2 linked regions of the Homo sapiens genome follow. The protein of the gene in region 2 purifies or fractionates together with the protein of the main gene of each other region. This does not show direct contact. Each region holds a gene or a part of one and is shown on either strand. Other genes may lie near its edges.

What was found.
Region 1: the proteins of INPP5A (region 2) and TTC1 purify together in Homo sapiens (affinity purification with mass spectrometry; 2 studies listed by BioGRID and IntAct, with this or other methods). This does not show direct contact.

The regions. Positions count from the first base shown.
Region 1 is NC_000005.10:160,060,883-160,064,791, reverse strand, and holds part of TTC1 (tetratricopeptide repeat protein 1), read right to left. Parts: intron 1,251-3,909; exon of another isoform or gene 1,136-1,250; coding exon of another isoform or gene 1,119-1,135; intron 1-1,118.
Region 2 is NC_000010.11:132,645,581-132,649,489, reverse strand, and holds part of INPP5A (inositol polyphosphate-5-phosphatase A), read right to left. Parts: intron 3,623-3,909; coding exon 3,522-3,622; intron 1-3,521. UniProt on the Homo sapiens protein: Phosphatase that specifically hydrolyzes the 5-phosphate of inositol 1,4,5-trisphosphate to inositol 1,4-bisphosphate, and inositol 1,3,4,5-tetrasphosphate to inositol 1,3,4-trisphosphate. Plays a crucial role in the survival of cerebellar Purkinje cells.

The sequences.
Region 1 (3,909 bases), on a different chromosome or scaffold from region 2:
GAAAGCTTCCAGGAGAGTTCCCAGCCCCTATTCCCCACTCAGCAGTGCAGTCACTTTAATGCCATCCACCCTCAGCCTGTGCTTGCATAGATGAGAGTGGAGTCCTGCTGGCTCTCTCTGGGAATCAAAGCCTCCTGTCCTAACTGGCCAGTGCTATCAGAGGACACAGGCTTCTGGGGTGAGTTCTGGGAAAACCAACTGCTGTTCCAGTGAGGCTCAAGGCACCCTGCCAAGCCAGGTCTGCCTGGTAGTGAGGGCAGAGGTCCCTCCAAGTCTCTTCTCTCTAGAACGGCAGCAGCCACCTGCTAAATGTAATTCAACTCAGCCCATTTCCACTGAGCTTGGATTCATATTCAAGAGCTTCCTGCTTTCCTAAACAAATCCTTAGCTTCTATACCAGACTAGCCATTTCTTAGAAATGGGATCATCTTGATTTGCACAGCAACCTCAATAAGACCTCAATAGTCCAGCCTCCTCTTCCCAAGTTTCAGGCTTTATTTACACGACTTGGGTGAGGTATATAGGATGGGCGTGGTGGCTCACGCCTGTAATCCCAGCACTTTGGGAGGCCGAGATGGGTGGATCACCTGAGGTCAGGAGTTCGAGACCAGCCTGGCCAACATGATGAAACCCTATCTCTACAAAAAATACAAAAATCAGCTGAGGGTGGTGGCATACGCCTACAGTCCCAGCTACTAGGGAGGCTGAGGCAGGACAATCGTTTGCACCTGGGAGGCAGAGGTTGCAGTGAGCTGAGATTGCGCCACTGCACTCCAGCCTGGGTGACAGAGTGAGACTCCGTCTCAAAAAAAAAAAAAAAAAAAAGTCATGGTCTATAGCCAGCGGTTCTTGCCAAGCATGGTGACTCATGCCTGTATTCCCAGCACTTTGGGAAGCTGAGGCAAGAGGAGGGTTTGAGCCCAGGAGTTCAAGACCAGCCCGAGCAACGCAGTGAGACTCTATCTCTACAAATTTTTTTTTTAAAAACAAAAAACAGTTCTTATGCTGTTTTAAGATATAAGGAACATCTGAAACTAGGAATGTTCCAGAAAATTTTGGCAGGGATGGGTGAATAAACAGTTTCAACCCTTTCTAAACTGCTTTAATTTTTCTTACAGGTCTACTTCCAGTGGAGGTGAGAATGGGGGTGGACGAAAAGAGAAATCCCTAATCACCAGAGGTACAGGCTCCTTCCCACTTCTTAGCAGCTTTTCTCACTCTGAGGCCTCCCATCTTAGAGTAAAGCCCAGGTAAAGAACTTAAAGGTGCATGGCCTTGGCTGGGTGCAGTGGCTCACACCTGTAATCCCAGCACTTTGGGAGGCTGAGGCAGGAGGATCATGTGAGCCTAGGAGTTTGAGACCAGCCTGGGCAACATAGGGAGACCCTGTATCTACAAAAATTTAAAAATTAGCTAGGTGTGGTGGCACACACCTGTTGTCACAGCTATGCAGAGGCTGAGTTAGGAGGATTGCTTGAGCCCAAGGAGTTCAGGGCTGCAGTGAGCCATGATCATACCATTGCACTCCAGCCTGGGTAACAGAGCAAAAAAAACGCATGGCCTTTACATTTTACAGGCCTCCCTAATAACTCATGGTGAGAACTTTTAGTCTCAGGCTTAAGAACTAGCCCAAGGAAGCTCACTATGTCCAGAGAAAGGCCAACCCATCTTTGGATAAAACAGTAAATTGAGAAAGCTCCCAGAACCTGGGATGGCTGTTCTCCAGGCAGGCCTCCCAAACCTAAACCTGGGACACACACGTTCTGTGCTGCTGCTTGTGTCAGGAAATCACTGGCATAAACCCTGGGTGCCTGCACAAGGCAGCGGCACAGCCTCGGGCACATGGGCGTAGAGGGAGGGGCTCACAACAAGCAAGAGAAAGACAGGGCAGCCTCAGGGTGACCTGAGTTAGCAACACCAACCAGGAACGCTGGCAGTTTGTTCTGGGGTTGGAAAAAGAGGACAGGAAGGGGGAAAAAAAAAACCATCAAAAGCAGCCCAAGAAAATGTTGGTACTGGGAAATCCTTGGCTCTTGTGATATGGAGTGAGTGAAGTGAGAATGAGTATCAAGAGCCACTCACATCAGACTCCTGAGGAGGGGCAGCTCCATGGTGGAGAAGCCTACTCTGGATGGTCCACTGAGCCCAGGGCCATTACATGGATGGAGGGATCACTGCAAGCCCATCTCCAGTGCCAGAAAAACAATTTAAAGTACAAACTGGAAATTTTACTTGGCATCTATCATGTAAGCCACTGGGATGTAAAGAATAAAAGTAGCTTCTATGCACAATGCTCAGTCTAGTGGGGAGGCAGACCCAAAAGACGGAGGTGTGCCCAGAGGTGCTTTCTGACCTTGCAGTGGCACGAAGAGGCTACATGCCACAGTGCTCCGGGGGATGGGAATAGGTCCAGGGTGGTGGCATGTCACCGTGCTCCAGAGATGGCAGCTTCCTCAGGCAGCAATGGCTTGGCTTTAGGCTGGTCTGCACTAAAGGAGGTTTCCCTCTAGTGCAGAAAGACCATTCCAAGCTAAGACTGCAAATATTCAAACTGCCGACGAGAGGAAGAATTCTCTTTCCCAGGCCCTCGTTTTGCCTAACTGGCTAAAGGGCCTGTGTGCCACAAGCCACCTTTGAACTTTTAGCTTGGTTGATTCTATGGTGTGGCAGTCATGAAGATGTATTTCTCCAAATGCAGGGGACAGAGTGGCTGCACTCTAAAATCCATCAGCACATTCATGCAGAGGCCACCCTTCCCACCTGCTGCTTCCAGCCAATGCCTGAGCATGGGAGGGACTCGTCTGAGGGGCAGCACTGGCTCCCCAATGGCTTTGCTGAAACTTTCTCAGCACCACACTCCAGTGGAAAACTTCCCCGCTCCCCCGGCCTTTCCTCCTCCACAGGGGTCTGCCAACTCTGCCAACAGCCTCCAGCTCCCAGCCCCATTTTCCCTTGCAGGTGTTTCCCCCAGTAAATCTCTTGTACTTTTAATCCTATCTTGGCATCTGTTTTTTGGATGACCCAAACTAACACATAGATAATTATTCTTTTTCCTTCAATTCCAGTATCTCTGCCTTTATAACATTTCACATTAGTTTCACCGACCATCACTTAAGGGGGAAAAAAAAAAAGAAAATGCGAAATTCTGCTTTCTAAATGAGATTACATATATATAATACCTGGCAGGTAGTAGACACATAATAAAAGGCACACAAATAAATAGTCTCTGCGTTAGAGAAGACCTAAGGTCACCTGACATAGATTAATTCAACCAACATGTACTAATTACATGTGTGTGGCACCTTGCTATGTGTGGTAGAGATGCAAAGATACATGACATGGTCTATACACCAAAACAAGCTTAGAATTTGACAAGGAAGAAAAGACATACACACAAAACCAAATTCATATGTAGCTGAGTTATAAAATGCTACGAGAGTCAGGAAGGGGAAGATTCCTTTGGCTGGGGCAGGAAGACAGGAAAGGGGTGGAGGAAAGAAGAGATTTGGTCTATCTTTGTCTAAGAGTTTACACTTGAACCAGGCACCAAAGGCCATAGGACTGCAACCATATGAGACAGAGGTGCTGTCCGTGCAAGCCCAAACAGCGTGAGCCAATGCACAGAGATAGGCAGGCGAGCTGTGTGTCCAATGGGGCTGAAGCGGGGCAGGCAGGTGCCTCCTGCCAGGCTGTCCTGAGCCAGGCCCGTCAGCCTACGGTTCCCGTGCCACAGGAGGCCACTGACAGCTTGAGAACTGAGTTTTCAGGGTTAGTAATCCTGTGGCAAAATGAAGAATGAACCAGAAGGGGAGACCCTGGGGGTGGTTCTGACAGAAAGTTAGTCCCACATTGTGGGAAAGAGCCCATTTATTCACTGAACAAACATTAAAATTTCTACAATGCTTGGGT
Region 2 (3,909 bases):
GGAAGAAAACAGGGCTCAAACACTAAACAACGTAACATTCGCAATGTCTGCCATCCTACGGAAAATAACTTGATATGAGAAGCAGCAACACCACGTGAATGTGTCCCGTCATCCTACGAAGAAGCCGTCAACAGAAACAGACCCGGAAGAGGCAAAAATGACGGAGTGAGCTGAAAGCAACTGGGAACAGTCATTGCAACTGTGACCAGACAGCGAAAGGAACGCACAGACGGAAGGAAAAGCGAGGACAGGGAAAGCACACGTGAGGCTTCTGGAAGGAGTGGACAAACACAATGTCAGAAATAAAACGAACTGACTGCATGGACCTAAGAGAAGATCAAAATCTGCAACAGAAAAGAGCCCAGCCACTTAAAAATACAGCAACAGAGGCGATCCAAACCGAAACACAGGGAAAATGAGCTGAAAACAATCAGAAGAGCTTTAGGGCCCTGTGGGGCAGAACCAGGCAATCTAACATCAGGTAACTGGAGCCTAAGAACAAAAGAGAAGGGAAGGAAAAGAAAAATAGTATTTAAAGAAATAATGGACAAGGACAAATTTTCCCCAAATTTGATTAAAACGATAAACCCACAGACTGCAAATGCTCAAACGGCCCCAAGCAAGATAAACATAAAGAACATCAAAGCAAAGTACAACATAATCAGGTTGCTGCAAACCAGCTATAAAGACAAAACCTAGCAGTGGAGGAAAGGGCACATTATATACAAGAAAATTAAGAGAGAACAATGGCGAGATTCTCGCCAGCAACAATGCAATACAGAAGACAATGGGGCGATATCATTAAAGTAGTGAGAGGAAAAAAAATTGACAAGCTAGAATTCTATTTACAACAAAAACAGCTTTCAAAAATGAGGACAAAGACCTTTTTCAGATAAACAAAAGCTGAGAAAATTCATGAGCAGCTGACTTGTGCTAAAATAAATGTTAAAGAACGTTCTTCAGGCAGAGAGAGAAGGGTGCCAGATAAAAAGCAGAATCCACACAAAAGGGCGGAGGGCACTGAAAGCCAGTGAACTGGTCCACACCAAGGGCGTTTCTCTCACGTCTTAATCTTTTAAAAAGAAAATTGTTTAAAGCAAAAATCATAACGCTGTACATTAGGCATAAAGCGCGGAGGAAGGAAACACACACGGCATCGCGGGGGCACAAGGCCGTGGGGGCCACACTCCACTGTGAAGCTCTCACACCAAACACGGCGGCATCGTTCCCGTCCGGCCTGCGGTGTCCCCGCCTGCTGTGAGGGCGGCGTCCTCCGTGCTCAGGGTGCACCCCCACTTTCTCTCCTCTGGAAGGTGCTTCCCAACAGGGGCTGCTTTCCTTCTCTTACCGACTTACTGAGTTCTTCATATATTTAAACACTCGTTTTTGTCAGTAAGGTGTGCTGCAGATATCTTTTCCCGAAGTGGCTGAATTTTGATTTTGTTTTGAGTGACTTCATTTTGAGTGACTTCATTTTGAGTGCCTTTTCATAAGCAAATGCTTAGTTCAAACATGGCCACATTTTTCAGCCTTCCATTCTGTAGGCTGCACTTCCTGCACATTTTAAAAGAAATCTCTCATCCCAAAACTATATTTTCTCCTATATTTTAGACTGAAATTTTTAATGTTGCCTTTTACATTTATATAATTAATACAACTGAAATTCATCTTATGTAGGGTGAGTGAGAAGTGGCTGCTTATGACACAAAGCAGGGATCCAATTTCATTTTTCCCAACAGGACACCAATGATGCCGTGCCCCAGCCCATGTCCCCACCCACCCTCCTCCAAGGCAGCCGCGAGGGTCTGGGTGGGGCCTCGACTCCGCTCTCCACTCTCTGGGCTGCGCACCTGCCTCGATCCGCTCTCCTCTCCGGGCCTGCGTCATGCCACCTGCCCCACTGCTTCTTCGGAATGAGCCTTGGGGTCGAGCTGGGTGAGAACCCACTTTGTTTTCCTTCAGGATTCTTTTAACTATTCTTGACCCTTTGCTCTTATATGGCAATTTTAGTATTAGTTTGTTGAGTGTTAGGAAAAATGCCGCTAAGATTTTGATTAAAACTGCCTTAAACTGGCCAGGCATGGTGGTTCATGCCTGTAATCCCAGCACTTTGGGAAGCCAAGGCAGGCAGATCACAAGGTCAGGAGATTGAGGCCATCCTGGCTAACATGGTGACACCCCATCTCTACTAAAAAAACACAAAAAAATTAGCTGGGTGTGGTGGTGGGCACCTGTAGTCCCAGCTACTCGGGAGGCTGAGGCAGAAGAATGGCATGAATCCAGGAGGCGGTGCTTGCAGTGAGCTCAGATCACGCCACTGCACTCCAGCCTGGGCAACAGAGCGAGACTCCGTCTCAAAACAAAAAAAAAAAAAGAAAAAAAAAATGCCTTAAATTACAGATTATTTTGGGAAGTTGTGGCAGTTTTTTTTAGCAGCTGAAACCACTTTGCTCTGCTCGAGGACCCTGCGCTGGGAGTTCAACACGGAGGGCTTATGTCACAGCAAGGATGCAGCGGCTGGGATCGCCTGAAGCCTCGCTCACACTCACACTGGCACCAGGCCGGGAGGGCTCGACGGCTCTGCCCACAGGTCCCGACTCCGGGTGGCTGCATCGACCCACAGAGCATGGCAGCAGCGTCAACCCACAGAGCGTGGCAGCAGCGTCGGCCCACAGTGTGTGGCAGCGGCGTCGGCCCACAGAGCGTGGCAGCGGCGTCGGCCCACAGAGTGTGGCAGCTTTGTGAAGCTCTGCGATGTTGGGGGCTGGTCCCAGAAGCCCTCATGCTGTGAAGAAGCCAGGGCTTGCCCAGGGTCTGGAGGTGGAGACGAGCCCCCAACATGGGAATGTGCCAAGGCCACACTGTAGGGGACACAGAGGGCGGGCTTCACGGCTGCGGCCTCGGGAAAATACAGCAGCCACTATTAGCAACAGCCTATAGGAGGCCCCATGTCTGAACACAAGCCTGCCTGCCCCTGCCTGCTCCTGTCCACTCCTGGATGCCCCAGGTCCGGGCGCCCCCTCTTCCCAGGCAGGACCCAGTTGGGCCGGCCCTGTCAGAAGCCTCAGGGCATGTACAGTGGGAATACACGTGGGGCACCTTCCTCCTAAACGATGGAGATTTCGCCCCCAAGGAGGATAGACGCTCCCTGCCGACCTCCTTGAGACAGACTGCGCAGTGGGATGTGAACCCCGGCCACCACAGGCCCAGGCCTCAGACACACACACACGGAGACGGCTCCACTGGTATCTGGGGCTCACGTCCCCTGGCCCGAGAGCACAGACCCTCGCCGTGTGGAGGCAGCAGGCTGTCACTCCGTGGCCTTCTGTCGCCGCCCCAAGGAGGCTCGTGGCCACACGTCTGGGCCACTCCTCTCTTTGGAAAACTGAGACTCAGCCAAGATGACCCCCAGGTGAGTCCCGAATGGTGAGGCTGGTGATCATAGTACCATGAAAAGACCCCCGCCGGCACCCCACACCCCTGGGAAGTGGACATGCACCAGCACCTGCCCCTAGACTTACTTGACGAACTTGTCCACGTGGGACATGGAGGCCTCGTAGTTCTTCCCTCCAAACTCCTGACAGTGCAAGGCCATGAAGTGCGGCTTGTGTGTGTGCACGACCTGGAGGGAGAGAAGCACACTGTCAGGGTCGTCGGAGCCGTCCACAGAGCCACACGTGGCACCACCCCCTCCACCGCCCCCACAGCCTGGGAGCCACCAGGGTCTGGCAGAGACGGGGCCCCATGTCTGCGACCATGGGTTCTGGACAGATTCTAGGAGTCACGTCGCCTTTGTGCTTCCAGTTATTTATATTTCCAGTGCTTTTCATTTTCCCATTACTGTAAATTCCATAGAAAAGAGTCCAGATTTCTCAGAAGCCTCTTCAATCATCTAGAGGCCTTATTTCT